4 linked regions of the Homo sapiens genome follow. The protein of the gene in region 1 interacts with the protein of each later gene in a biochemical or structural test. Each region holds a gene or a part of one and is shown in the gene's direction. Other genes may lie near its edges. The genes, in order: ACVR2B, FSTL1, SYNJ2BP and MSTN.

Region 1 (7,021 bases):
TCTTTCCATGAGATGGAATGAACTTCAATAGTATATTTTACTGGCCTGGCACAGTGGCTCATGCCAGTAATCCCAGCACTTTGGGAGGCTGAGGTGGGAGGATCACGAGGTCAAGAGATCGAGACCATCCTGGCCAACGTGGTGAAATGCGTCTCTACTAAAAATACAAAAATTAGCTGGGTGTGGTGGCACACGCCTGTAGTCCCAGCTGCGCCAGAGGCTGAGGCAGGGGAATGGCATGAACCCGGGAGGTAGAGGTTGCAGTGAGCCGAGATCATGTCACTGCACTGCAGCCTGGTGACAGAGTGAGGCTCCGTCTCAAAAAAAAAGTATATTTCACTGAATTTGATATATACAAAGTAATTTCAGCCTGAGATCAGTATTAAAACGAGACATTTTGCATTCCATTTTTGTACTGTCATCAAAATCCAGTGTGTGCCTTACAGAACATCCTCAACTCTAACTTTCCACATTTCCAGTGCTCTGCAGAACATTTGGTTAGTGGCTACCATATTAGACAATGGAATCTCAGAAGGGAAGGTAGAATTTATGGTGTAATAAATGTCACATGGTGCTTGTCACAAGATCAGTCAGTGGTTAGTTGGTTCTTTAATAATTCTTCAAGTCTTTTGTGGTCTGTGCTTGGCCGAGTGTCCTTGGGAAACAAGCCATTTGGCTCTTGCATTTCAGTGGACATCCTGGACACTCAATGCTGTATCCTACAAGAACTCCTGACACCTGTCTCTGTACTCTGTACTTGGGGTTCAGATCAAAGGGCTTATGGGGGTGGGGTAAACAGTATTCTAAGTGAAGTGACCAGAGCTCTTGGAGAGGGACCTGCCTCCTGTCTATCCCATCAGGAAGTGCAGGCCCTGATTACTCTGATAGGCTGACCCAAAGAAGTTTCTTGGCCACTTCCTTGGGGGAGGGCGGAGGGAGTGAGCTCATGAAGTGAAGTGACTTTCATCCCTCAGGCCTAGTGTAGCGGTAGCTGCCAAGGACATGGGCTACAGAGCCATGGGCCGTGGGTGCCCCTCCCAGAGAAGAGTGTTTTCTGCTACCTGTCCTTGTATCTGCTGGGCACTCGAGGCTCTGCCCTGTCTGGGTGGGCTGCCTTTTGGGAGGAATGGGTATCCTCCCTAGCTCTTAGGGGCCCTTTCAAGGCAGATGATGTGAGAAACCTGCCCATCTTTCCAGGCCCTATAGCTGGGTAAAAACATAAGATCTAAACCCTATGGCCTCCCATCACTTGGGTGGGCCTCTACTGTGTACTACTCTGTGGGTCTTTCTGGGCATCAAGAATCTCCAGAAGCACCTGGACCTCTGCTGGCACTTCACCTAAGGAACTCCTGTTATAAGGAGCCAATGAAGAGCCCACATTCTATACAGTGGTCCTCCATGTCATAGACCCCTCTGAGAATCTGATGAAAGCTGTGGACCCTTCCTCCAGGAAAATGTAAATCGGTATATGTGTGCATGTGTGTGTACATTGTATGCACCCACTCTGTTTTGTACAGATACTGGGAACCTACTGCCCCCTGATTAGACTCCTTGAAGTCCTGGCTGCCCTGCACATATCCACTGTAGTAGTCTTAAGGGGCAGCTTGTTCTGCGGGGGAGGGGTGCTTTTTCCACCTTGGTACCTCACTTACTTTGCCTTTTGTGATCCTGCCGGATGTTCAGATTCTAGCCCTGGTCTCTCTTTCCAGAAAGCTGTCCTCTTGAGTGCCAGCCTATGCATTCAGCCCCTCTGCTTGGGAGCTCAGGGTAGTGCAAATGAGAACCAAGGAGTATCGGTTCAGGAGTTTAGATCCACTCACGGATACTGACCTGTCACCATGGATTGGGATCTGGAGGGTTGAGGACTGGGTCTGGATAATATTTTTGCTAGTGACTGTAGATAGACTCTAGATAGTCCTGAGGCAGGGTCCTGGTTGCATGGGCCTCACTGTAGAACAGGGTTTCTCAACCTTGACACTATTACATTTTGGGCCTGATGATACTCTGTTGTGTATGGGTAGTGGTGGGTTGAGCTGTTCTGTGCATTGTAGGATATTTAGCAGTATCCCCGCCTCTACCCACAAATTCCAGTAGATCCTCTTTAATCATGTCAACCAAAAATGTTTCCAGATCTTGCTAAATGTCCCTGGCAGAGGTGAGAGCAAAATCATCTCAGATTGGGAACCACTGATCTAGAATGTTCTCACGCTTTCAAAGAGGTCTACAGTTGTAAGAAGTAGGGGTAACGGCTTTTGAGTGCATATCCATCCCCCCACTCTGGATGCAGGGTTGGAGGTGAGGTTCTCCTCAAAGCCTAGGAGATTCCTGCTTAGTGAAATCTGCTCAGCACGTGAGAGTTTGGTTCAAAATTAGTGGTTCTGGTGTACAGCTTACCACCGAGGAGAATCCTGGCGTCCTTGAGTTTTCCCAGAAGTGGTTCAGGTTTCAGGGAGGCGGAGGCTGTGGGTGGCTGGGCAGCCTGCCTGCCCGCACCCGCCCACTCGCCTCTGACCGTTGCCTTAAGGCTGGCACTCAGCCTCTTCCTCCCGTACACGCAGAAATGCCAGGAAGTGCCTGTTGCTGGGGACTCTCTGCCTGCCCAGCAGCCCCTCTCTGCTCACCTGGGGGCCTCAGGAGCTAAGGCTAGCCCTGTCTGCCAAGCGGAGCACTGGGGTTGTAGCAGGCCGTGGGCATGCCCCTTCCCCTGAGTGGACCTGCCATGTGGCGCTCCGGGGAGCCGCAGAGGCTGTGGGCCTGGAGCCCCCAGGCCGGGGACACCAGGGCAGGTGGGCAGCCTCTCCCCAAAGGTATGGGTGCAAGTCTCTCCCTCAGGGTGTGGTGGCCAGATGGGAATCTGAGGGCAGGGCCAGGCTTCCTGCTGTGGACCTGGGGAGGTGTGGGCAGCGCTGCCTTAGACAGGCAGCCGACACTGGAGGCCCTGGTGGAGCGGTTGGTATCTGTGGAGGCTTGTCTATTGGGCTTGGCAGGCTGGCAGCCCCCTGTGGCTGCCCCCATGTTTATTTTCTACTCCTCCCCTGGCCTGCTTCAAGCTTGGCTAGGGAACGCTTCTGTGGGACTCTGTCTGTCTCATCTTGAACTCAGTGAGACACAGTTTGCTGCACTGGGAAGTGATTACAAACTGGACTCTTAGGGTGGAGGAAGCATTTTTCAAAGACCCAGTTTCCAAGTGCTCCACATCACTGGTATGTGAAGTGCTTGCTGAGGTTCAGACTTCCTAGTTCCATCTGTTTTTGGGGTCTTTACAAAGGGGACTTTATTTCCTTCTCAGAATTCTTTCTCTTCCTTCCCTCCGGTTCTATCACTAATTCTGTGTTCCAAAACAGACACCCACCCCCTTGTTCTGGGCTTTCTTTTTTGGTCTCTCATTCTCTACCAGACTTACGGGTCCATCCCAGCCCTAGAGGTGCCTATTCCTTGTGGTCCTGGGGGTACTGCTACTGAATGCCCAGGTTTTCTGGTGGTGGAAATGCTGCTGCCTTCTTCTGACTCTATTACATTGCTCAGTGATGTCTCTGACTAAGGCAGTGGTAGGTACTGGAAATCAATGGATAAAGCAGGCTGGGATTGTTCAAGGGTCAGCCATGTCTCTTCCCGGCCCAGGACCAATAATGGCTTCCCGCCTTCGGACAGCCCCATGCTTTCCCCTGGTTATTCTAGGCTTGCTGTACACATGCATGTGCCTTTTTCAGATTCTTTCTGGGACTGGCAGCTCCAACTGGGTGTTTTCATTCATGGACGCATGACCTCTGGAAGCGGGTGTGGAAAGGAAGCCTGTCCCACTGGGCAAATGTGAGGCCCTCTTCCCAGGGGAATGTTGTCTGGATGGGTCTGACCTGCTGGACAATGGGCCTTCTCCCTGGCCAGTTTCTGGGCTGGAGCTGAGGTGTTTTGTGAGGCGAGCTCATGCTCTTTGCATGTGTTCCTCTGCCGACTATTTCAGTTCCACTCTGACAACCAAGGAGGCTAAAATTAGTTCTGGAGAAGGAAAAGGAAGGCTGGTTGGAAACCCAAGCCCTTGGCTGGAGAATGGAGGAGGCTGCTTCCCAGGTTTGTGCCTGAGCATTTCGGAGGATGGGATGAGACCAGCTGTTATCCGTCCATCTGAGGAGAAGGAGGGGTCCCTGTGGCCTCCCAGACTTGAACCAATTAAAACAGGAGACTAACTTGGAAGCTGACTCTCTCGAGTGTTGATGCCAGGATATTTTTTCCTTCTGGCTTGTGCAGTGGCGCACAGTGTTTTCAGGTATGAGGACAATGCCTTTTAATGAATGTCCAGTGCCATTGACAACCCTCCTCCCCCTCCCCTCCAACTGGATTATGTGTCCGTTGATTTAGAAAGCATGCATGAGTTTTCCCAGCCTGGGCTGGCAACCATGGTTTAAGAACTCTTATTTTATGCACTTTTTGGGAATTTCCTTCTCACTGAGGTTTGATATTGGGTTAGAGGGGAGTCCTGTGGCCCAGGGCTCACACAAGAGGTCCCGCTTCTCTGTGTAGTGAGGGCATAGTGAATCAAGGCTCATCTGCTCTGGGCCTTAGAAACCAGAGGAGCAGAAGGGTTAGAGAGATGAATTCTGGTTTCTTTTCCCACCTGGCTGGCTCCTTCTGTGAACCTTCTGGCTGAGGGTGAGACCTACAGGGCTGTGTGGGAGTAGAAGGAGGGCCAGGGCAATGTAGTCCTATCTCCCCTGCCCTGAAACCTCGCATCCAAACCTCCCATCACTGAGAGGTTAGCCACCCTGGGGTATAGTTGGGGGAGTAGAAGTCACTTCCCCCATAACTAATTTTCCCATTTAAAAAAAATTTATTACTTTTTAAACAAGTAATATACCTACATTATATTGCAGAAATTTAGATGTTACAGATAATACTAGGGTCTCCTTTTATCACTTCTGTTCCCCATCCGAGGCCCCCTCCAAAGGTAATCCTTTTAAGATTGAGATGTATTCTTCCAGACATTTTTACTTGTGCATCTATAGAAATACTTATAGAAATAGAGAGGCTTTTGGCCGGGCGTGGTGGCTCATGCCTGTAATCCCAGCACTTTGGGAGGCCAAGGTGGGCGGATCACCTGAGGTCAGGAGTTCAAGACCAGCCTGACCAACATGGAGAAACCCCGTCTCTACTAAAAATACAAAAAATTAGCCCGGCGTGGTGGTGGGTCCCTGTAGTCCCAGCTACTCAAGAGGCTGAGGCAGGAGAATGGCGTGAACCCGGGAGGCGGAGCTTGCAGTGAGCCAAGATAGCACCACTGCACTCCAGCCTGGGCAACAGAGCGAGACTCCATCTCAAAATAAATAAATAAATAAACAAACAAATAAATAAATAAATAAATAGGCTTTTTTCCACCTAAAATGGTATTCAAGCATTTAATTGAAGTATAAAACATATACAGAAGAATGTACAAGTAATTACCATAAGTAACAGCTAAGAAGCATTTTCACAAATTGAATACACTGGTTTAGTCAGCATCCAAGTCAAGAATCAGAAATTTTCCAGCCCCCCATCCCCAGCAAGCCCTGTTTTGTTCCATTTCAGTCTCTGCCCACACCCACTAAGGTTAACTACTATTCTAACTTCTAACAGCATAAAATAGTTTCATCTGTTTCTGTGCTTCATATGAATAGAACCTTACAGAATAAACTGCTTTGTGTCCATCTTTTCCTCACCATGTTTGTGACTTTAAGCTATGTTGGATGTCATGGCTTTTTAAACTCGGAGATTTGCTTTGGCAAACTTTCTGATACATATGGATCTACTTTGATCTTTTTAATAACTACGTAATATTCTAAAGTTTAAATATAGACTACATTTTACCTAGTTTCTTACTGATGGACTTTGTGATTGTATAGAATGTATGCAGACTGTTTCTCAAGAGTAGATGAGAAAATAACATCTGGATCATAAGCACGTATGTTATTGGTTTTAATAGATACTGAAAAATGGTTATACCATTTTATTTATTTATTTTTTGAGGCTACCCAAGTGATGGCAGTGAGGGTAGAAGCTGGGTGATATGGCAGTTGGCTCTCTGCGGTAATCTGTGAACATCCTTCCTACCTCCACACCCCAACCCCTGCTGAAATGCTAGGTTACAGAGTTTAGAAATAGCCTGGTTTCATGAAGGGTGCGCGGACATGGGAAGGGCTCACTTCCACTGGCTTAATGTATGAGGAGACCTGGAGATAACCTCTCGTGCCTGTGTCTCCTACCTTGTGCCTGAGTCTCCTGGGTACTGTGCTGATGAGGGAGGTAGCACTGGACTAGCCAGGATGTGCTGGTCTGGGTTTGGGATGGAAGTGCATATGTATGTTCACTTACCAGGCTCTATGCTGCGTGCAGACTCTGAAGAGACTAAGGCACTTGTTGAAGGTCGCTGAAGAGCTCTGGGTAACAGCACTACTGGCAAGCCCACTGCATTTGACAAAATCTGAGTGTGACAAATTCTGATTTCATATGTCGTGATAATGACGTTGGGGGTATTGGAGAAACCTGTAGAAAAACTATTTTAGAGTCTGGTGAGAAGCTTTTCATGACAGAAGGAGCTCTGGTGAGTTTCTGTTCCTGGCTGAGTGTATGCCTTGTTCCCTGTATAAGTCTCTGCCACAGTTGGCAGAAGACTTAGGGAAGATAGTTTGGGATGACTTGTTCACCAAAGCTGTTGCTTCCCAGTCTTGTTCTTCAGCTTGCTGCCTACTCTTTACTGTTATGTTGGGATTCTTTATGTAAGTCCACTTGTCAGGCCCTGCTAATGGATTTAGATGACACTCAAGTTTGTGGAACTGTTTCTAGTACAAATGATACTCCAATCAGCTTTCCCACATTATACATATGATGTGCGCTGTTTGTGTCTTAGTCTGCTCAGGTTGCCATAATGGAATACCATAGATTGGGTGGCTTAAACAACTGAAATTTCTTTTCTTACAATTCTGGGGACTGGAAGTTAAAGATGAAGGTGCTGTCAGGATTCGTTTCCAGTGATTCTTCTCTCTTGGGTTGG
Region 2 (7,639 bases), about 82 Mb from region 1:
GAAGGTGGGTATTGTTACCTGAAGCATGGCGAAAGCAAGCTGGATGCGAAAGGAATCAATGTGTACTGAATATCGTGACATTAAGACACTCTACAGATCTGGATGGAAGATGTGTACCATTGGCTCACCCACCAAATTACTCATTTTCCAGTCCTATAAACCATTCATGCGAAGGTTTTTTTGTTGAAATTTGGCTCATAAATTCCCATCTGCTCTGGAAATCAAAATTAATTGAAAGGTTTTTTGTTTGTTTGGCTGGTTGGTTAGTTTTTGTTTGTTTGTCTGTTTTGAGGCAGGGTCTCTCTCTGTCACGGAGGTTGGAGTAAAGTGGTGCAATCATGGGTCACTGCAGCCTCCACCTCCCAGGATCAAGTGATCTTCCCACCTTGGCCCCCTACTCCCCCCGTAACTGGGAATACAGGGGTATGCCACAACACCCAGCTGATTTTTATATTTTTTATAGAGACGGGGTTTTGCCACATTTGCCCAGGCTAGTCTCGAACCCCTGGGCTCAAGTGATCATCCCACCTCAGCCTCCAAAAGTGCTGGGATTACAGGTGTGAGCCACCATGCTGGTCCCAAGTTATTATATTTTTATATTTTCAACAAATGAGTAAATAAGCCACTGGAATTCTGTCTGAAGATTTTTAAACAGGTTAGAAAATTTTGTGTAAGTTTTTAAAATGTGCATACACGAGAGTTTTTATGGTGCCACACTTTTATTGTTTTGGATAACAAAATAGCCTAATGATAAGACATTTCCAAATATCTCATTTCAAAATATTTTCTCCACTGCATAGTTTATTTTTGTCTTTTGCTTTATTTATTGTAGAGTTAACCATACGCCACAGCACAGTTTTATCATCAGTACCTGTAAGAGCTCTCTAGTGAATTATTTCCGTAGTAATACATCTTATTTATATGCTTACTGTGTACCAGACACTATTCTAAGTACTTTACATATTGATACATTTAATCTACACAATAGCTCTATGAAATCAGTACAATTATCACGATTTTACAGATGAGGCAACTGAGATGCAAGGGGTTAAGTAACTTGCCCAAGGTTACATAATAAGTAGTAAAGCTAAGATTTACTACCAAGGCAATTTTGTACCAAGGCAGTCTGTCTCATAAACCCATGCTTTTAATTGCTACAGTACACCACAAAGATTGCACTAGTCACATGCTAACACTGATATTGTCCAACTGTCTGATTTTTGCCACTGTGATGAGTGTAAAGTGACATTTATAATTTACTGTATAACTTTGGACAAACTACTTAAACTCTGTGTGTGTTTCTTCATCTGTATATTGGAGATAATAAAATAATACTGATTTCAAATGGTTGTTGTGCAATTTAAATAATAGTAGTGATGTTGAGTATCTTTTCTATATTTATTGTCCATTTGGGGTTCCCCTTTTGGGAATTGCCTATTCATACCTATTGCCCTTTTTTATTGGGTTTTCTTTTTCTGATTGATTTGCAGGGTGTGTGTATGTGTGTGTGTTATGAGTTACATGTCAGTTTTAGACATTTATATCTCCTTCTATCATTTTGTCTATGGTGCCCTCAGTTGAACAGGAATCTTTCATTTCATTTTGATATACTCAAATCCATTAATTGTGTTCCAAATGTAGAGAGGATAAAGATATGAAAAACATTGTTTTTGCTCTAAGCAACTTAAAACTAGCTGGAGAATCAAGAATAACTATGAGAACAAGTGTTAAACATTGTATAGCAGTCTGCAATATAATGCCCCAAGTTGTAAGGCTGTGTAGCCAACAGTATAAACTTGGGAAAGTATCTAAATCTTCCTGAGCTTCAGTTTTATTTGGAAAACGGAAGCAATAAAAAAGACCTTTCCATTTACTGTATTTTTTAAATTTTTATTTTTTATTGTTATTATTTTTTTGAGATGGAGTCTCTCTCTATTGCCCAGGCAGGAGTGCAGTGGCACAATCTCGGCTCACTGCAACTTCTGCCTCCCGGGTTCAAGCAATTCTGGTGCCTCAGCCTCCCAAGTAGCTGGCACCACAGGTGCCCACCACCATACCCATCTAATTTTTGTATTTTTAGTGGAGACGGGGTTTAATCATGTTGGCTAAGCTGGTCTCGAACTCCCGGCCTCAAGTGATCCGCCTGCCTTGGCCTCCCAAAGTGCTGGGATTACAAGGCATGGGCCACCGTGCCCAGCCTCCTTTCTATCTATTGTGAAAATTAAATAAAATAAGAGATGTTGAATGGCTTTCATAGTACCTGGTGTATAGTACCAACTACAATTTAGATGCAAAGCCGATCATGAAATAATAATGGCTATCACATACAGAGGTCTACTACCTGCCAGGCACTTTTTATATGCATCTGCTTAAATTTCACAACTCCCTGCAAGGCATTATCACTGCCATTTGTCAGAGGCAGAAACCTAGGTTCAGAGGGCTTATTATTTGATGCAAGTCAGGCCATGCAGCTAGTAAATGGCAGTGATAGGATGGAAAGCCAGATTGGTTTGACCTCAAACCTCCTGTGCCTTCTACCATGCCAAGCTGTTGTCAGAAAAGATATGAAGGAAGCAAACTTGACGTGGTTCCTGAAAACAAAACAAACAAACAAACCCAAGCATTTTAGTAGATAAGAGGAAGGGAGGAAAGATGATACCAGATTCTGAGAGGGTGCAGTGGATCTGCAAGGGATGCAATGTATTGTGCGTTATTCGAGGGCAGAACTTTATCCACAATAGTTCCCTTCAATCCTTGCACAGTGACCAAGACAGAGTATCTGGTGCGGAACATCTATTCCCTAATCTTATTACCATAACAAGGGAGCAGGAGTAAGTTGTCTGACTGGAGAGTTTGAAAGAACTGGGGATGTGTCACTCTACCCCCTCAAGTTTGGGGAGCAGGCATGTCCCAGGAGGCACATATTTTCTGCTTTTCCATGCAGTTTAGTTTTTACACAGGCAGGTTTTCCAGCTCTGCTTGTGACTGAGTGGACATGTTCAATTCTGGGCCCGCTGTCCCTGCAGATCTAAAGCCATGGCTGCCATTCCAGCCTTTAGCAGAGACAAAGCTGACATTTTGCTCTCCATAAGTCTGACTCCTGTTGCTATCTCAGTGGATTCTGAACTTACATGGGGACCATGGGTATTATCTTGAAGCCCCCTAAAGCCACAACAGTGGGCACTCAACAAACCTTGGCAGCAGAGTGAGTATGACAAGTTCAGAGGACAACGAGGAGATGGGCCTGCTTTGAGCGGAGGAAGTATGCTGATGTAGTTGAAGAGAAGTTAGATGGACAGGGTGGGCCCAGTAATGCAGGGCTTATAAGAAAGGCAGAGTTTGGATTTGATGTGGGTAGAAGAACGCTGAAGTTTCTGAGTAGAGGAAGAACATGAACACGAGGAAGACAATGTTTAAAATAAGGGAAAGAATATGACAATGGATTGCAGTGGAGACTACAGGGGAGAGCCTGGAGTCAGAGGACAACGAAAGGAGGTTTCCAGAATTTCTGAGTGAGGGAGGATGAAGGTCTGGCCTAGGAAAGTGGACATGTGAACGGAGGCGAGGGGATGCATATGAGATCTCAGCGGCTAAACTGCCAGGCTATGGGTACAAGCCGGCTCTGAGAAAAGGAGATAGGTTTGAAGGCAACCACCCTGAAAGAGGTAGATAAGCAGGCCCTGAAGCTGGGGGAAGTGAGGCTTAGTCTTGGGCATGTGAAATCTGAGTTGCTAAGTGGATCTGCTCTCCTTACTAGTTATGGCAGGAAAGGCGCCTTAATTAGGAGCATTTTAGGGAGTTAACCCTGTCAAAGAGGTAGCACACTTTCGAAGGCCAAGGGCTGGGAAGAAGGTGGTGAAGATGGCAATCCTGAACACAGAGGCTACTTGGGATGACAGGGATGGGAGGAGGGACACAGGTGATGAGTGAGTGGGCGGAAGAGAGGAGGGGGACACCGCTCCCCGGCCCGAGGGAAGGAGGGGATGAGGCTGCCGGCAAACGCTGGACTCAGGATCTTCCCAGCAGAGCAGGGCGGCCGCCACCTCACCCGGGACAATGCACTGTAGAACCCACAGCAGCCTTCCCCACGCCGGCCGGTCTTCCCGGCCCTGCGCCCACTTCCCGGTGCCCCGCTGCCCTGCTGCCGTGACCCCGGGATGCGGGGTCTCCTCTGCCTCCCTGGGCCTCCCCCTTCAGCCATGGGGGGCGGCTCCGCTTCCTAGGCCGCGGGACGTCTTTTCCTCCAGGTTCCAGTCCCGGACCTTCCCGGGCCCCCCACGGCACCGCCCACCTGGCCACCGCCGCAGCCCGCCCGGGCCGCCGCCAGCCAGCAGCCCCTCCCGGGGTGGGGTTTCCCTTCCCCCTACCCCTTTGTGGCAGGGACCCACGGGACACCCCCTCTGCCTCCGCTCCACGTCCAGGGGGCCGAAGGGGCGCCGGACGAGGGACCGTGCGGAGAGAGGGGTTCGGCGGCGCCAGGACTCCCGCGGGCTCCCCGGAGCAGGGGTCGGAAGGAGGGGGAGCGGGAGCCGCGGGGGCCGCTGCAGCAGAAGGGGGAGGAGAATGGGGAGGAGCTGGGGGGGCAGGCAGGCGGGGAAGGAGAGGTCTTAAGGGGCGGCGAGGGGAGGTCGCATTTCCTCCGAGGCTGGCGATCGGCGGAGCTCCCACCTCCGCTTACAGCTCGCTGCCGCCGTCCTGCCCCGCGCCCCCAGGAGACCTGGACCAGACCACGGTGAGCGCAGGGCGCACGGCGCGGAGGCCGGACTCTTCGGGCGGCCGGGGGTGCTTGGGCGGCCGGAGCGAGCCTGCGGGACCCGAGCAAGTTTCCCAGGTCAGCGCGGGGCCCGGCGCCTTCAGACTCGCTCTCTTCTCTCTTCCGCAGATGTGGAAACGCTGGCTCGCGCTCGCGCTCGCGCTGGTGGCGGTCGCCTGGGTCCGCGCCGAGGTAGGCGAGGGGCCGAGGAGTCCGAACTCGGTCCCCGGGGCCTCTTGGGTCTGCGCGCTGGGCGGGTGGGCGCGCGTCCTGGGGATGCTCTCCCGGGGTGGCGCTGGGAGTTTCGGTCCTTGGGGTGTGCTGGGGTGGAGCTGGGGCAGTAATGCTGCTTACGAAACTTAAATCTTTAAAGCAGGAAAAGTAGTTCGGGCCGTAAGCGGGAGCCCCGCCGCGGCTAACATGGAGGGAGAGCGGGGAGGAGGAGAGGGGACGGGCTGGGCCGACGGGGACGAGGCGGCGACTGGAGCAGCAGCGAGTTCAAAAAGGCGCCTCAGTTCCGTCCTTCACTTCAGAGGAGACTGAGAGTAGTTGGGGACTTTTCCCTCCCAAGTCTGTCTCCTGGGGGCGGGGGCAGAGGAATCGGGATTCTTCTTTTGGGGCAAAATTAATTTTCCTTTCTCTCTTTTAAAGTGAGATCATGATTCTCTGAAATGTATTTTCTTCTTTGTGAAGTGTCCTCGGGTTTTGTGTTATCATCTGGGCAATGTAACGGCCTTTTCCCAAGTGTTCCCTGTAACGTTGCGCAAGTGTAAGAGAAGATCCATTGCTCTGCTCTTTGGGGGCTCGAGTTTCCAGTTAAAGCATTTCAGCGCTTGTTTTTTTGTACCAATTTTTTCAACTCTAACGACCTTCCTGAGACACTACAAACAAACCAACAAACTCTTTGCTCAGAAGCCGCTCCATTAACTCAAAGGTTTATGGACAGAAAATAAACAATTCTAAATTCCCCGGGCTCCAGTCTCCAGGAAAGTGAGGTCAGAAACTAAACATTTGATAATTATGGCAGGAAATATGGAAGGAATTAAAAAGCATGAGGGAGAAGAAATGGAATGCACATTACAAAAGAAATAGCTCCCTGGTGGGTGGTTTATGCTCCCTGTTTGAATTTTTTCCTTCATATTACAGTTTAACCACACCCTTAGCATCGCAGCTTGACTCTGCCCAAAAAAGTCATAAATGCATACAAGGTCTTCACAATTTTTAAAAAATACGCATTGTACTGAATTCTCATTTAATTCACTACTACGTTGTTGATTGAGGTGGAAACTCAATCAACTGTTTTTACTGCCAATGAAATAAAAGTAGCTAATATTTATTAAATATCTGCTATGTTGTAATAAAATTCCATTTTAATGACAGATAAATTGAGTCAGCGAAGGTTACCCAATGCTCTCAGCTATTAAATGCTAAGGGTGGGATTTGAACCCAAACAGTCTGGCTCCGGACCCAAGGCTCTTGACCATTAACCCACACCACTTCCAAGCACAATGGTTTAACATTTACCAAGTACATTTTTGTTTACCACACACTGGGCTGTGTACGTTACCTGCAGTTACTTCTTTTAAAGCTCCCAAACCCTGTAATGTAGGTTTTATTATCCCGATTTTACAGAGGAAGAAACAGGTTTAAGGAGATTAGGTAACTTGCCCAGGGTCATACAACTAGTTAGCTCTGAAGCAGGATCTGAACCTACCTCTCTTACCTTTGGAGCCCATCTTGAACTCCAGGTCTGCTTCTTATCCATCTGGTTTTCCAGGGTTTGCATTTGAGAGCGTATCCCCCTTCACTGGCTGATGTAGCCCTGGTTAAGAAACATTTCTCCATCCCCTGCTGTGGCCCTCAAAAGGCAGTTGCAGACCAGTGATGGATGAGGTGAATCCCTGGTTGGTTTTCCAGCAGGCTCAAGAATTGCCAGCCAGTGTGTGAAATCACTCAGTGAACTGGAATGCAAATATGAGGTGTGAGGAGGCTGTTGGTTGACTTACCAGGCTGTGTGGCCCAAGGTCTGGAATCTATTCTAGGCGGCCTGCAAGACACACACCCCTCCCAACCCCCTTCCACACAGGGAAAACTTATCCCTGGTAGGAAGTTCCCCCAGCAGCAATTTCCTGCTGGAGGTAGAAGAGCATCCAGTGCTCTCACATAATTCCCAGGCAAACTACAGGGAAGAAGGCAAAATAGAGAAGTACTGAGATGTGAAAACAGAGTGCGTTGGGGGAGAAAAGAGGCTGTGAACTCACAGTGTATGGAAATGGTTACAATGAAAAGAGTGAGGGGTAGGTATGAGCTAGGTTACATTTCATGGCTCCAGGTTATTAAGGATTATTATCTTTTAATTATTCCAACCTCCTGGTGCCTGGCCAAGTAAGATTTGGCAAGTTTTTAATCCATTTAATAATAATATACCTTTAACAATTGATGAAGAGGTACATTAACCCTCTCCCTATGGGAATTGTAATTTGGATTTTTTAAAAGCCTTTTATCTTGTAGTTAATGGTGCTTGCTGTTTAAATTTCTTCCTTGTTAACTCTAAGGACAGTCTGCAAAAATGGTCACATCATGATATTTACAGTCCTTAGTGACAATCTATTTTAGTAAACTTCAAATCGCTAAAATTGTACAAATATTGTTGAACTTTTTAGAAATGAAATTTAGAAAATAAATTGAGGCTTCTTGGTGCTTTCTGCTTTTCTGCGACCATAAATATTTAATTCAGCATATTTTTAAACAATTTAATCACTTTACAAATCATGTTGATATTTGAAGAAGCCAGAGCCTCTGTAGTAAACCAGAATCAGAGGTGCTCTCCACTTGGGAAAAGGTGATTGTCATCAGTATTAATGCCAGTCTATGTCAATCCCATTT
Region 3 (7,951 bases), on another chromosome or scaffold:
GCTGGTAGTATCAGAGATGGTCAGATAGACTGTATTTCATACATAGCAACAGCTATACTTTTGATGGGTTGAATGTAGAATGCAAGGGAAAGAATGGAATCAAAAGCTGTTCTTAAGATATTCATATGAACTGAGTAAACTGAGTTACTCAAGGAAGGGGAACAGCTAAGAGAGGTATCAGTTTAGGGGTATAAGGGTTAGAAATTCTCATTTTATCATAATTTAAGATGCCTGCTAGGCATCTAAATTTTGAGATGTTAGGTAGGCAACTGGGTTACACAAGACTGAAGCTCAGTGAAGAGACATGACAGCTGGCATATTAATGGCATTAGAGCCAGGGGTCTGAATTAGACTTCTTATAAAGATAGCATATATATACAGAAGAATAAAGAGTACCAATCAAAAAGGACAATAGAAGATAAAATAATTGTAAATGCCTTGTGGCTATCTGCTGTCATCAATAGCTGGGGTCAGCAGTGCAACTTGCAGCAAGAACTTGAAAATTAAAGCAATAATACTGCTATCAGGTCTAAACTTTAAAATCAACAAGTAATGGGCCAGAGCAGAGATATGCAATGCCAAAGGCTGTGACTTCACTGTAATCTGTGTTATGGGCTGTGTTGTATGCCTGCAAAATTCATCTGCTGAAGTACCTCAGAATGTAACCATATTTGGAGAAAAGGTCTTTAAAGAGGTAAGTAAGTTAAAATGTGGTCATTACGGTGGGCCCTAATCTAATATGAACGATGTCCTTATAAGAAGAGGAAATTTGGAAACAGACATGTGTGCACACAGAGGAAAGACCATGTGAAGACAGAGGTAGAAGATATGGCCATCTGCAAGCCAAGGAAAGAAGCCTCTGAGGAAACCAACTCTACCTGCACCCTGATCTTGGACTTCCAGACTCCACAGCTGTGAAAAAATACATTTTCATTGTTCAAATTACACAATCTGTAGTATTAGTTACAGTAACATTAACAAACTAATATCGTCTGATTAAATGTAATAATAATACAACAAAGAAAAAAGTGTGTCAATCACAAAAGAGTTTTGTCACCTAAGGAAGCATAGAAAAAATAAAATATGCAGGAATTTGAAACTAAATAGGTAAGGGCAAAAAGTTGGAACAAATGCTATGTCAAAGGAGAGGTGGATAAGTCCCAAATACAAACATATTCATGAGTTGGTCATCAAAGAGGCTGATAGAATAAAATACTGAAGTAGGAGGGGACTGAAGCAGACAAGAGAGATTAAAAAGACAAAGTGAATATATGACAGGAAATGTGCAAAAATAGAGCAAGGTGTGATTAAGGTGAGGCAAGGTTTCCACTAATTTTGTAAATGGTAGATTGAAGTTTCCACTACATTCTACATTTTTTACATAACTCAAGGTCATAAGCAGAAAGGTTAGTTCAGACAGAAAGTGTCACTTCTTGTGTCAGAGACTGCCAGTGGCCTCCCAATATCCATTCTCCCACTTTCAGTTAATAATAATAACCTTGATTTTTATGGTTGGCACATTTCTATCCCTGAGATTACAAGAAGTCTATGACATTTCCAGGAGGTCTTCTTTGCCCTTCCTTCATTACCTTCCTGGAATGTAGATATGATGGTTGAAGTTCCAAAATCCATCTTAAGCATCTTGGACCACGAAGTAAAGTCTACACTCCAGGGGTGAGCCACTGCACCCGGCCTGATTCCATAATTTTTCTCAATTGTTTCCTCTGAGTAGGATCTCATTTTCTCTGTCATTTGCTTTCCTACATATTAAAGCTCCCTCATTTTTTTTTTTAATTTATTTACTTTTATTATTTTTTAGTAGAGATGGGGTCTTGCTCTGTTACCCAGGCTAGAGTGCAGTGCTTCAATCACACCTCACTGCAGCCTCAAACCCCTGAGCTCTAATGATCCTCCCGCCTCAGCCTCTAGAGTAACTGGGACTACAGGCATATCACCACGCCCAGCTAGCTTCCTTGTTCTTCCATTGTTACTGGAAAGGGGTCCTGATCCAGACCCCAACAGAGGGTTCTTCAACCTTGTGCAAGAAAGAATTTGGGGCAAGTCCATAGAGTAAAGTGAAAGCAAGTTTATGAAGAAAGTAAAGGAATAAAGAATGGCTGCTCCATAGGCAGAGCAGCCCCGAGGGCTGCTGGTTGGCTATTTTTATGGTTTTTTCTTGATTATATGCTAAACAAGGGGTGGATTATTCATGAGTTTTAGGGGAAATTGGTGGGCTATTCCTGGAACTGAGGGTTCCTTCCCTTTTCAGACCATATAGGGTAACTTCCTGATGTTGCCATGGCATTTGTAAACTGTCATGGCGCTGGCAGGAGTGTCTTTTAGCATGCTAATGCATTATAATTAGCATATCATGAGCAGTGAGGATGACCAGAGGTCACTTTAATCACCACGTTGATTTTAGTGGGTTTTGGCTGGCTTTTTTACCACATTCTTTTATCAGCAAGGTCTTTGTGACCTGTACCTTGTGCTGACCTATCTCATCCTGTGACTTAGAATGCCTAACTTCCTGGGGATGCAGCCCAGTAGGTCTCAGCCTTATTTTACCCAGCCCCTATTCAAGATGGAGTCGCTCCAGTTCAAAAGCCTCTGACACCATTATTCCTATACTTCTATTAGGGAATAAAGGCAATTTACATATCCCATCTCTCACTCTACTTATTACCAGCATTTCCTCAACTTGTTTAGGATACTTTTTTCTTTCACTGCCCTATGTATTTCTTTTGAAGCTGTGTGTTCAGATGAAAAGGACAATTTTCCCAGGTACTGAGAGGTGATTCCCCCACCACCGTCCCCACAGTGGTCTAAAAGAAACCTTGTGTTTTTTTCCTTACAAATCTCCTCATTGATGATTTCTTGATTTTCCCCCCATTTCTATTTGATCTTTTCTCTCTTGACATTCCAATGTCATTTATTTTATTTTATCTATTTATTTTTTGAGATGGAGTCTTGCTCCGTCACCCAGCGTAGAGTGCAGTGGCACGATCTCCACTCACTGCAACCTCCGCCTCCTGGGTTCAAGTGATTCTCCTGCCTCAGCCTCCCATGTAGCTGGGACTACAGGCCTGCGCCACCACGCCCAGCTAATTTTTTTGTATTTTTAGTAGAGATGGGGTTTCACCATGTTGGCCAGGCTGCTCTGGAACTCCTGACCTCAAGTGATCTGCCCACCTTGGCCTCCCAAAGTGCTGGGATTACAGGTGTGAGCCACCCCGCCCAGCCCCCAATGTCATTTATTTATATTACACATTTTTTTAATTTATCATTCTCTGCCTTTTATAATGATCATTTTATTCACTCATCCAACCAACATATGAAGAGCTACTATCAATCCCATTTTAAGATGGGGAAACAGAGTTCAGAGATGTTGGATTCCTTGCTCAAAGACAGACAAGTTTAAGGGAATGGAATGGAAACTTGAGCCCAAGTTGTAAGTCATAATCTGTGTTATTTCCACTATCCCATCTTTTTTTTTTGAGACAAAGTTTCGCTCTTGTTGCCCAGGCTGGAGTGCAATGGTGCAATCTCGGCTCACTGCAACCTCCGCCTCCCGGGTTCAAGCGATTCTTCTGCCTCAGCCCCCCGAGTAGCTGGGATTATAGGTACCTGCAACCACACCGAGCTAATTTTTTGTATATTTAGTGGAGACAGGGTTTCACCATGTTGACCAGGCTGGTCTTGAACTTCTGACCTCAGGTGATCCACCCGCCTCGGCCTCCCAAAGTGCTGGGATTACAGGCGTGAGCCACTGTGCTCAGCCTCCACTATTCCATCTTAACTTCTCTCAGAGTGAGCAAATAAGAGGTCTTCCTGCCGAATCTGCCCCTATCTCCTTCTGTTTGGTAAACATAGTAGCTGCTGCTTTGGTTTTTTACTCTAAATTTAAATGTCTTTACATTGGCCTTGCACTTTCTAGTCCTCTAAGATCCCCACCAATCCCTGTGGTCTAACTCCAGGTTGCTTCACAAGGTTGTCACCTTCCTGGCTCTTTAGGCTTTTGTGTTTTTGACCCCTGAAGTTTCATTCAAGTTCAGTTTGGAATGTCTCATTCCAAAAGTCAGGAAGACTGGCCTAAAGTTATACCTAAGCCATGCGTTAACCTTATTGTAAGAGTTAAAACATTAAAAAGATTGAATTTTCCCAGTTGCCAAAAGAATGAGACATTCCCCCACCCCCCTTTCTTAAAACATTTTCTTGAGCAAATTGTAATTATAATCCGTGTGTAGTGTGTGTGTGTGTGTGTATCTTTTTAAAAGCTAAATAAGCCTCTTGTCAGATAAAACCCAGGAATTGTTTTCGTCAGGTCCCGGGAGCCAACTCCTTGAAATTTAAGTATCAAGGTAGACAGTGCCCCTATGTTCCAGGCTCGCGGGAGTTACCCGAAGCGCCTTGCTCCAAGCCGTAAGTACCTGTTTGTCACAGAGATAACGTTTTATTTTTCCTTTGGATAAAGGCAATTAACCAACACAGGCGGCCACTCCAACGGTGAACTACCAAAAATTGAATACCAAACCATGTTAACTCGTCTTACATGAGAAGATGCGTGTGCTTTGGCTACATAAAATGTGAGATTTTTGTCTCTCTTTGCAATCTCATTAGTGGATTGCCTGTAACACCCATTCCGGTCTGGTTCGATGCTTACAGAATAATACACCTTTTTTTTCTTTTCTACATTTGTGGAGATTTTCTAGGATGGCAGGAGATTTTTTTAAAATTTTTTTTCTCGACAATATCAATTTATTTAGGTCCCTTACTTTTACTAGCCACCCCCTTCCCACTTGCTTCCAATGGCAAATTAGAATGGTAACTTGCCCCTTGCTCACCTCATGCTTGGCTTTGGGAACCGGTGAGAAACTGCAATCCATTGGCGGTAGGAACCACGATTCCCAGCATTCCCAGTGCTCCGAGTCCTTCGGGCTTCCTTTTCCGGGTCTCGAGGCTGCTGAAACCGAAACCGCTGTGCTGTGGGCGCAGCGCCGAGATTGATTCACCTTCACCTGTGCTGCACTCCAGCTGACCCAAGTAGGAAGCCAGACGAGCTGTAAAACATGAACGGAAGAGTGGATTATTTGGTCACTGAGGAAGAGATCAATCTTACCAGAGGGCCCTCAGGTATGTGCGGAAAGGGTCATATCTGACAGTAGGGGATTAGAGGGTGTAATTGCAGACACCTCTGCTGCTGAGCCGGATTCACCTGGCCTCGGGGCGGGCAGGCCACAACCTAGAGGTTTCGTGCAACGCTTCGGGGTGCTTAGAGAAAATATATTGAAATCCATCATTAGCCAGATACGGGTCTGAGGAATCCACCTCAAAATCCAGTTGGATGAACACAAATATATATAGTCAAGAAGGGGTTCTTTGTGCAAATCGTGCTAGAAAAGCCTTTTTAAAAGCCTGCTTTTTTAGCCTGCTTATCGTGGATACCACATCCTTCTTTCCGTTGCCTGTTCTATCCCTCCCCCTATGAGGGACCGTTTAGTAAAATGGGAGCATAAACGGTGTGGACTCTGAATGCATAGCCGTTTTCCTGCAGCTAGGATCCCTCCCTCGCTCCTTTGATTTCTGGGAACTTCATTTACAATGTCAACTAGAATGTTAAAGCAGGAAGAGCCCTTAGAAATCTTTTATTACACAGGTTCCCAAACTTGGTTCCGCCACAAAATTACCCAGGGCTTTAAAAAAAAAAAAAAAAAAGAAAATAAAAAGTTAAATCTTATCTCCCATCTGCAGGGATTTGGATTTAATACAGATTTATTTTATTTATTTATTTATTTTTTATGAACACCTCATGTGATTTTGAGCAGCCAAACTGCTATCCTCTTCCCCCACTGTGGCTCTTCATTAAACCGGGCTCTTGACATTACTACATTCTGCCTGCTTTCGACTTTGTTTACTTTCCTTTACAACTATTTAGTTGATCAATTAAGAGCTCTTTAGCTTTGGAATTACAGTATCTGGGTCTAAATCTTGTATCTAACCTCTTACTGATTCTTGATACTTATTGGCTAACTTAACTGATGTAAGCCTTAGTTTATCATCTCTAAAATGGGGATGGTTATAAATATACTTCATAGTGTTGTGAGAATGAAATGAGTTAATCCATGTAAAATGTTTACAACATTGCTTGACCTATGGTAAACAGTATGTGTTTCCTACTATTGTTACTGTTAATGGATAAATAGCTAAACTGACACAGTAAATCCTACTAATACTGTATTCCAAGAGTCTCTAATAAATCATCAAGTACTCTGAGCTCCATCTCTGAAATGTTCCTGAAATTCTTTCACTCCTGTTTCCCTTGCCACTACCTAGGACAGTCCATCACCTTTTCTCATCTGCAGTTCTGCAGTAGCTTAATCATGGATAGATTATTCTTTATAAAATATAACTTTCAGAATTATCCATACTTTGTGTCTTCTTTTCTTTTCTTTCTTTCTTTTTCTTTTCTTTTTTTTTTTTTTGAGACAGGGTCTCACTCTGTTGCCCAGGCTAGAGTGCAGTGGCACGATCTCAGCCCACTGCAGCCTCTCCCTCTTAGGCTCAAGCAATCCTCCCACCTCAGCCTCCTGAGTAACCGATACCATGGGTGTGCACTGCCACGCCCGGCTAATTTTTTTGTATTTTTGGTAGAGACGATGTTTCACTACGTTGCCCAGGCTGGTCTCATTTAAACTCCTGAGTTTAAATGATCCACCCACCTCTGCCTCCCAAAGTGCTGGGATTACGGGTGTGAGCCACTGTGCCCTGCCTTCCTTTCTATTATTAAAAATTGGAAGTTGGTTTTACTTATCGGAATATAACTCATCACTAATACCATTATTAATATTTTTTTTTTTTTAGAGACGAGGTCTCACTTTGTTGCCCAGGCTGGTCTTGAACTCCTGAACTCAGGCAGTCCTCCTGCCTTGGCCTTCCAAAGTGCTGGGATTACAGTCATGAGCCATCATGCCTGGCCTATCACTAATCTTAATGGATTAGTGTCATGCTCCATATGTGCGCCTAAACTTTTGTCAAAGGCTCATTTGGTATGCCCAAGTTTCTTGGATTCATTTTTTTGCTATTTTATATAAATGTATCCTTCACTCACTGTTAATATTTATTGACTTTTGAGGCTAACATAGAAAGTTACTTTTCAATCAAAATCTGTTTTTTTGTACTTTTCATCCATTGATAACTTGTTCTCTTAGGACCAATTAAAACAATGCTAGTTCCTTTTCTGATTGCTGTGCAAGTATTTATTTAAAGGCTCTAGTTGTTCTGCTCCTGTTTTGCCTCTTTCTTCTTTATCCTAAATATCTTCGGTTATTTTACTACCTCTTGAGATGTTTGAGATTTGATTCTTGCCTTTTGCTTAAGAATTTAATGTACTTTGACATAGTCCTTTTGCTCTGGCATCCAAAGTATTTTCAGATCTCCTGTCTAAAGCAGAGCAGGACCCTGATATTATCTCTTGTTCTAAAGATGAAATCTTTTTAAAATTCAGTATAATATCACTTCATCTTTTTTGGCATTTGTAGTCATAAATTTCCTAGTGTTAGTATTTTCCCAAAACATTGGCATTCGGACAAGCTTCAAGGACTAATTAAAGGGAATAATTATATCTAGCTAATATATTTCACCCAAAAATGGTTTGATTTCTGTATCACATATTTATTACAAATGAATGTATTTATTCACTCAGTGGCTTCCTAAATTTTCATAAGCATTTCCATGTATTAATTATATAAGTCAGTGAACTTACTGGGAGAGTAAAGCCTCAAGTTTAGGAATGAACTTGGGTGAAAACAGTCATTTGAAATTTGGTTGGTTCAGTTAACAAAGAAAGGTTTCAAGTTCATGTTAATCACTTACCAGAACTGGTTTCCTAGTATGTGATACTCTTCTTCTCAGGGTCTAATTCAGCTTTTCTTCATGGTATCATCATGAAGATATA
Region 4 (7,625 bases), on another chromosome or scaffold:
TCTGGGGATCACTGGGGTGCTTCCCAAGTCTCTTCCAGAGAGTCTATGAAATAAAAACTGTTTTCATAATAATACTAAGATGTTTTTTGCCTTTCTCACACTCATTCTTTCTTATGTGTACAATAGTTTTCCAGAGGCCCCATAATGTATGAAGACATCATGACTCTGTCAGCAAATAAAATGCATGCTTGAATATGCCTGCACATGACAATTTGTTTTAATATATATGTGTTAAATATTAATGATATAACTGACACAAAAAAAGATTTGGGGGATTCTAAATAGTTTTTGAGAGTATAAACAAATCCTGAGACCCAAAATTTTGAGAATCACTGCTTTAGGGGATAAACCTCAATGGAAAGGGCACACCTAATCAAATTTATTCATATTTCATATGAAGAAACTAGTCCATAGGTTTCCTGAAGACAGTGATTGTGTCTGTCTGGCTCGCTGTTTTATCCTCAGAATCTAGCATAGTGCCAGGTACAAAATAGGCATTCAAATATTTCATAAACTAATACATGAATTCACACATACATACATTTATAAATGAAGGGTTTGCTAACTGACTTATTCAAGGTTACATAAAACATCAACAGTAAAGCCAGAACTATATTTTGGGTCTCCTGCCTTCTATTCCCATATTCATGCTACCTAGCTTAAGAATATTTTTTGTTTTTGTTAATTTTTGTCTTCTAACTATCAAAAGCATGGGTAATCAGTTATCATCAATGTGGGATGATTATCTTCTCATGATGTTAAGTGAGTTGAGTACTATGCAGATTTTTTCTGGCTCTAAGAATAATCAGCATAAAGTAATACCAAACAGCTGTAAACACAAGTTAATGACAAGAGGTATCAGATAAAACTTTCTGAGTTTTTGCCCAAAACTGTTGAATTTTTCATGATTCATTCTTGTGCTAATTCCTAATCTCATCGTCCTCCTTTTCTTGGCCATGATCATTAAACTTCCGGCAAGTCTTTACATTAGTACACTCAGTAGATCTCACACTGGAAAAATAAAACCGTAATTTTTTTTTGGAAAATATTGTTTATACCCTCAACATTGTTTTGAGACAACCAGTGAGTATTTGTAACAGAGATGAGAGAGTTTCGCTTGCCACCTTACTGACGGTTACAGAAAATGTGAGGCCCACAACAGTCTACCTAGTACAAAGACGAACCATACCAGTCTTGTGAGATACTGCCTTAACTACCTAAATTCTGACTCCTGTGAGAAGCTGCTTTTAGAGATGGCTAACTTAAGACAAAACCAACAAGCTGATAGACGCAGCTCTCCCAGTTAACTAGGAGGAATTCTTCTCTACCCACTCACCCTAATGATGCAGTACTGTCCTGTCTCCTTGGTGATAAGAACTGCCAGAACTGGGTCTCCAGCAGTCAGACTACATTGAAGTTTCCTATAGCTGGTGAGCCCTTCTATTCTGGGGCCTCAGGAAGGTTGCAATCACTGCCACTGGAGAAGGAATAAAACTTACTTAAATTTCTTCAGTTCTTCTTCACCCATTCAATACTGTTCTCTAGAGAAGTTGATTAGATATAGTCAATTCTCCCTATTCATAGTAGTTATGTTCTATAAAGTCATTGCCAACACTGAGTTAGCAAATATTGAACTATTGTTCCCAGGGGAAAAACAGGGTTAGTTGAGCCTCTGGTCATAACATTTACATCACCCAATCAATATATAACCTTGTTTTATGTATGTTTTTGTTTACAAATACATTATTTAATATATATTGTTCATTCATTAACACTGAACTCACAGCCAGCAGCACTATAACTCAGGCCTGAATGATGCTTATCTAGCACATGCATTTTTTCATGAGAACTTTTTTCCCTTAGGCATATCACAGCCTTTTAAAATTGTGGTAAATATACACAACATTTAGCATCTTAACCATTTTTAGGTGTACAGTTCGGTGGCATTAAGCACATTCACACTGTTGTGTAACCATCACCACCATTCATCTTCAGAAATTTTTCATCTTCCCAGACTGAAACTCTGTATCTATCACACAGTAACTACCCCTCAGTGCCTCACCCAGTCCCTGGCAACCACCATGCTACTTTCCATTGCAGCTTTCCTGTGATTAGGAACATAGGAACACCACGCAGCACGTCAGCACTATGCTTGGGGGCCATTTTTAAAAAGCAAAATCAATAAGAGGAGCAATAAAAAAAGAAGCACAAAATATGTGAAAACATGGCACTAAATAGACGGGAAAAAGGGAATTTGTTTATAGTATGAGAGCTGAAACAAAAAGGCGGAACCCTGCCTTGTTTGACCTCATCTGGGAACCTGTGCGTCAGATAGGACTCAAATTTTTTGCCGCTCTGTGAATGCCAGCGAATGACTGAAAAATGCTAGGAATATTGAGTTTCATAGATAAATTTTAGCAAGTAGGCAAATTTGTGAATACAGAAATCATGAATAATAAGAATTGTCTGTTAGCGGAAATGACAACCTTTGTTCACTTTTTTCCAGGTGATAAGAATAAAGAGCTGGAACATGTCTTGTAACCTGGCTGCCTTAGAAAATTTTACTTGCCTCACAGGCCTAGAAAGTAGGCTTTGTGACTGATAATTGGCAGCTATGACCTGAAGCAGTTCTAGTTCATGTGGAGCATAATTTTAAGCATAATCTCAAACCCTTCTGCATAAAACAAAGAGCAAGCACTCAAATGCCAGTTATCAATTACTTACTATATGACAGGTGCCATATTCAGCAATTTACATGCATTATTAAATTATATCCCCCCAAAACCCTATGAGGAAGCTAAAGTTTAGGGAAGTTAAGTATCTCATCCATTATCACATAGTTAGAAGTGGCAAAGTTGAGATTTGAACTCAGGTCTATCTGACTCCAGAGCCTGAGTTCTCAATTCAACTGCTATACAATTCTAAGCATATTAAAAAAAAAGTTTGACTTACTTGGAACTGTATAGATGCATGTGTTACAATGATCATAACATTTGAAAGATTTACACATTGAAAAATGAATTTACCAAACAAATAAAACCTTAGAAGCCAGATCTAATATTGTCCCATAACAAAGAGTATCTGAAATCCTCAGGGCATCTGGTTTGTGTCTGGTTTTCCTTAATCTTTAATGATGAGCAAATCCAATGCATTATGTAAGGCCATTTTTTTCTCAAGAGATGTAGATACCTCTTAAGAATTTGATGAAAATGCATTAACTTTTCAGGCTACTGAGTTGCATTTTAGTGCACCGAGGCAGTAAATTAGTGTACAGTGTGCAAAAATGGTAGTGACTTTAAAAATAAATATTTGATATGAGCCACTGTATTCTCTTGGAAAAAAAAAGTAATGGACTAAATCTCTTAGGAATCCTTAGCTTCCCAAAAAGGAGTAGGAAAAAGAAATCTCCTTTGGCCTAGAAATATCTTCTGTTTCTTGCTGGCTATGTTTGCTTAGCTCTTTAATAGTTCATTTGACTAGATCTTGTGGCTCCCAAAGCTAAGGTTGAACGTTTGATCCCTACAGAGGCCACTTAAATTTAGAGAACAAAAAGCTCTATTCTCTGCTCCCAGACTTTACCCCAAATCCCTGCCAGGTGTCTGCCCTCTGGTCAAAATGAGAAATTGGCAAAGGGGTGCAAACATATCGCAGTATTGGGAAACAACAAAAGGTCACCCCTTTATCATGATGCTCTTTCTCTTTTATGTGCTCATAATATTCTGATATAATTTATAGAGAATAGATACTGCACTTTTTACTCTCTGGATATTTACTGCTGGAAATCTGAGGCAAACTGTAATAATCTCTGCCATGCCAGTTATAAAATTCATTATCTTAGTCTATGTTCAGAGATTTTTCTACTAGCTGGCATTACCCTCTTGGTAATAAACAATGAAAAACACATCTTCTGAGTTATGTTAATCTGCATCTTTAGAATAGGAAATAATAGCACTCAGTCAAAAGTTCAGTATAATTTTCATATTAATAAAAGACATGAAACTATGTAAAAATAATTCCATGCACAATATGTTATAATAACAATGACTTCCAATATTTACTAAGAATTTAGTCAGAAAACAAGTTTCTCAAATTATAGATGAAAATTCTCAACTAGTATCATAATCTTAACTTTTAATTCAGGTCTTCCTAATTTTTATTTTCCTAATTACTTGGCACTAAAAATAATTTAATACAACAAATAAAAATATTTTCTACTTCAAATACTTGCCTAAACAATATAAAATCATTTTAGTTTTTGAGGAAGTAATATTTCATATTTTAAATATGTAGTATAAATTAAAATTGACTTATTTAAATTACAATAAGAGTTGTGTGAGGATTAGTAAGATTTAAGTACAGTTTATATTATTGCCAACATAGACTTTTGTTTTTCAAATGTCACAAATATCTTTTATTATTTGTAGATTTATTTCTTTTATGAAGTAGTCAAATGAATCAGCTCACCCTTGACTGTAACAAAATACTGCTTGGTGACTTGGGACAGACAGGGTTTTAACCTCTGACAGCGAGATTCATTGTGGAGCAAGAGCCAATCATAGATCCTGACGACACTTGTCTCATCTAAGTTGGAATATAAAAAGCCACTTGGAATACAGTATAAAAGATTCACTGGTGTGGCAAGTTGTCTCTCAGACTGTACATGCATTAAAATTTTGCTTGGCATTACTCAAAAGCAAAAGAAAAGTAAAAGGAAGAAACAAGAACAAGAAAAAAGATTATATTGATTTTAAAATCATGCAAAAACTGCAACTCTGTGTTTATATTTACCTGTTTATGCTGATTGTTGCTGGTCCAGTGGATCTAAATGAGAACAGTGAGCAAAAAGAAAATGTGGAAAAAGAGGGGCTGTGTAATGCATGTACTTGGAGACAAAACACTAAATCTTCAAGAATAGAAGCCATTAAGATACAAATCCTCAGTAAACTTCGTCTGGAAACAGCTCCTAACATCAGCAAAGATGTTATAAGACAACTTTTACCCAAAGCTCCTCCACTCCGGGAACTGATTGATCAGTATGATGTCCAGAGGGATGACAGCAGCGATGGCTCTTTGGAAGATGACGATTATCACGCTACAACGGAAACAATCATTACCATGCCTACAGAGTGTAAGTAGTCCTATTAGTGTATATCAACAGTTCTGCTGACTGTTGTTCTAGTGTTTATGAGAAACAGATCTATTTTCAGGCTCTTTTAAACAAGCTGTTGGCCTGTATGTAAGTAGAAAGGAAAAGAGTTTCTCTTTTTCAAGATTGCATGAGAATATATTAATGAGACAAAAATCTGCTGCATTATTTGTTTTCTTATAGAGACAAAAAACTAAAAAATAAAGTACTTGCATAGCATTAATTTAATAAGGCAAATATAGATAGCATGCTTATGCTTTCACAATAATACCACCAAGGCAAGGACTGGGAGATACTACAAGCAGTGTTTAAAACTTACATTAGATTTTAGAATTGTATTTAGTTGTGTAAAATAAGTTTTTTTCACTAATAACAGAAAAAAAAAAAGAAACTTGCTGGATGTTTAAGCTTACTTGAGCACTGCTGAAAACCTCAAGTGATTTCTGTTATTTGAAACTCTCTCAGTAATTTTTTTGTTCTTCACAGTTAAAAATTTAATTTTGAGAGCTATTACACTGAAGAATATGCAAAAATTAAATATCTTAATGTGTTAGTAAGAACAATAATGAAGTAAACATAGCATAATAATCATCATGAACTAAATATTAGAAAATGCCTAAGAAATAAACATTTTAATTGGGTAGGTTATGGCTCACAAAGTCCTCCTTGTACCTTGACCATAGTACTATTATTGAGAGTACCCAGTTTGTGTACTTCCAAGCAGGCACAGTGCTTAATAACCTTCTAAAATATTTTATTCTTCCTGAGAGGGAGGGCTTTTACCTGTAGTATCTACACTGCTTCTGACAGATAACATATTTCATACAATTCCTTTTGCAGTCAGCTCAAAAGAATACTTTCTCCAGGAAAGAGAAACAGGCACCTTGACAGAGAAGGCATGGCAAGAAAAATTTTGTGTTACCTGTTATCTTGCTTTAATACAATGCTTTATATACTTTAAACAAGACTCCAAACAGTTTTAAAATATTATTTCCCTTATTAAGTAATCAGGTTACAATGCAGCAAAGAATTTCCATTTAAGACTCTGCTATCAAATAGGTCTGGAGCAGATTTACCTTTTATAGACAATTTTGGAAAACCAAAATAAAAGAAATTGTTAGTGCTTGTGCTTACATGACAGCCTGGCCCTAAAGACAATACTTTCGAACTTTTCAGATAGCCTGAATATAACATCAAAATTTTTGTGTTAATTATCTGCTTAGTTTTGCTCCTTTAAAAGGTTATTCCAAAGCCAAAATGTAACAGATGTACTGTGTTTTCTACTAATTCCTGAGGCTCAGTAAGTTGCTCAGTGTGTCTTGTCCCCAGGTAATTCAGGCCTGGGGGAAGGGTTCCTTCTTCCAGACTGATTGGTACAGCTGCTCAGTAAGTGTAACTACTCAGATTCCCAAAGAATTCTAAGTGGTTGTTCCTCCACAGTGTCTCTTGTTCTCTCTAATCATCATCATTTTAAAATTTCATTCAGCGTTCATTACTTCATAGAACCTTCCTTTGTCCATAGTTCTCTGGAAGGGGAATAGATTCCTGATGAACAGCTGAAAATACATACGTCTGAAAAATTCTGAAAAGCTAGGGTAATTATTTTCTTTGACATTTTTTTGAGTTATAAAGTTCCACACGGTATTTCATTTTAAAAGACTGCATAGGCATACATTATCTTAATTTAAAAAAATGCTCAACTATTAATATGGAGGGGTTTTGTTAATGGGAAATAATTTCAGCAACTTTTCTTTTCTTATTCATTTATAGCTGATTTTCTAATGCAAGTGGATGGAAAACCCAAATGTTGCTTCTTTAAATTTAGCTCTAAAATACAATACAATAAAGTAGTAAAGGCCCAACTATGGATATATTTGAGACCCGTCGAGACTCCTACAACAGTGTTTGTGCAAATCCTGAGACTCATCAAACCTATGAAAGACGGTACAAGGTATACTGGAATCCGATCTCTGAAACTTGACATGAACCCAGGCACTGGTATTTGGCAGAGCATTGATGTGAAGACAGTGTTGCAAAATTGGCTCAAACAACCTGAATCCAACTTAGGCATTGAAATAAAAGCTTTAGATGAGAATGGTCATGATCTTGCTGTAACCTTCCCAGGACCAGGAGAAGATGGGCTGGTAAGTGATAACTGAAAATAACATTATAATAACCTTATGTTTTTATTCATAATATGAACAAACAATAGTGGAAAATAGCTACAAATTCCCTAAGCTCATAAGCTAGACAAAGGTATCTTACCCCAACGGTAGCCCTGTACCCAATAAAAGTAGGTGTCCAATTTCATATCCTATGAAACACTCCCTTGATACTCTTACTTTGCATCAAGATTTTAGAAAACAATTATACCATACTTCTTAACTTCTTAAGAAGTCCTTTTGAATTGGGAATGAAATATAAAGTGCTTTTCATTAATATGATACATGACTGTATGTATTAAAATATTAACTCTATA

What was found.
Region 2: the proteins of ACVR2B (region 1) and FSTL1 interact in a biophysical measurement, tested with the Homo sapiens proteins (one study listed by IntAct).
Region 3: the proteins of ACVR2B (region 1) and SYNJ2BP form a complex in vitro, tested with the Homo sapiens proteins (one study listed by BioGRID).
Region 4: the proteins of ACVR2B (region 1) and MSTN interact in a biophysical measurement, tested with the Homo sapiens proteins (one study listed by IntAct).

What each region holds. Positions count from the first base shown.
Region 1 is NC_000003.12:38,456,883-38,463,903, forward strand, and holds part of ACVR2B (activin receptor type-2B precursor), read left to right. Parts: intron 1-2,548; exon of another isoform or gene 2,549-2,692; coding exon of another isoform or gene 2,693-2,807; intron 2,808-7,021. UniProt on the Homo sapiens protein: Transmembrane serine/threonine kinase activin type-2 receptor forming an activin receptor complex with activin type-1 serine/threonine kinase receptors (ACVR1, ACVR1B or ACVR1c).
Region 2 is NC_000003.12:120,447,990-120,455,628, reverse strand, and holds the start of FSTL1 (follistatin-related protein 1 precursor), read left to right. Parts: upstream 1-4,636; 5' UTR 4,637-4,732; intron 4,733-4,882; coding exon 4,883-4,945; intron 4,946-4,974; exon of another isoform or gene 4,975-7,639.
Region 3 is NC_000014.9:70,414,079-70,422,029, reverse strand, and holds the start of SYNJ2BP (synaptojanin-2-binding protein), read left to right. Parts: upstream 1-4,939; 5' UTR 4,940-5,066; coding exon 5,067-5,130; intron 5,131-7,951. Other genes in the region: SYNJ2BP-COX16 protein, read left to right, coding at 5,067-5,130. UniProt on the Homo sapiens protein: Regulates endocytosis of activin type 2 receptor kinases through the Ral/RALBP1-dependent pathway and may be involved in suppression of activin-induced signal transduction.
Region 4 is NC_000002.12:190,059,727-190,067,351, reverse strand, and holds the start of MSTN (growth/differentiation factor 8 preproprotein), read left to right. Parts: upstream 1-4,622; 5' UTR 4,623-4,755; coding exon 4,756-5,128; intron 5,129-6,916; coding exon 6,917-7,290; intron 7,291-7,625. UniProt on the Homo sapiens protein: Acts specifically as a negative regulator of skeletal muscle growth.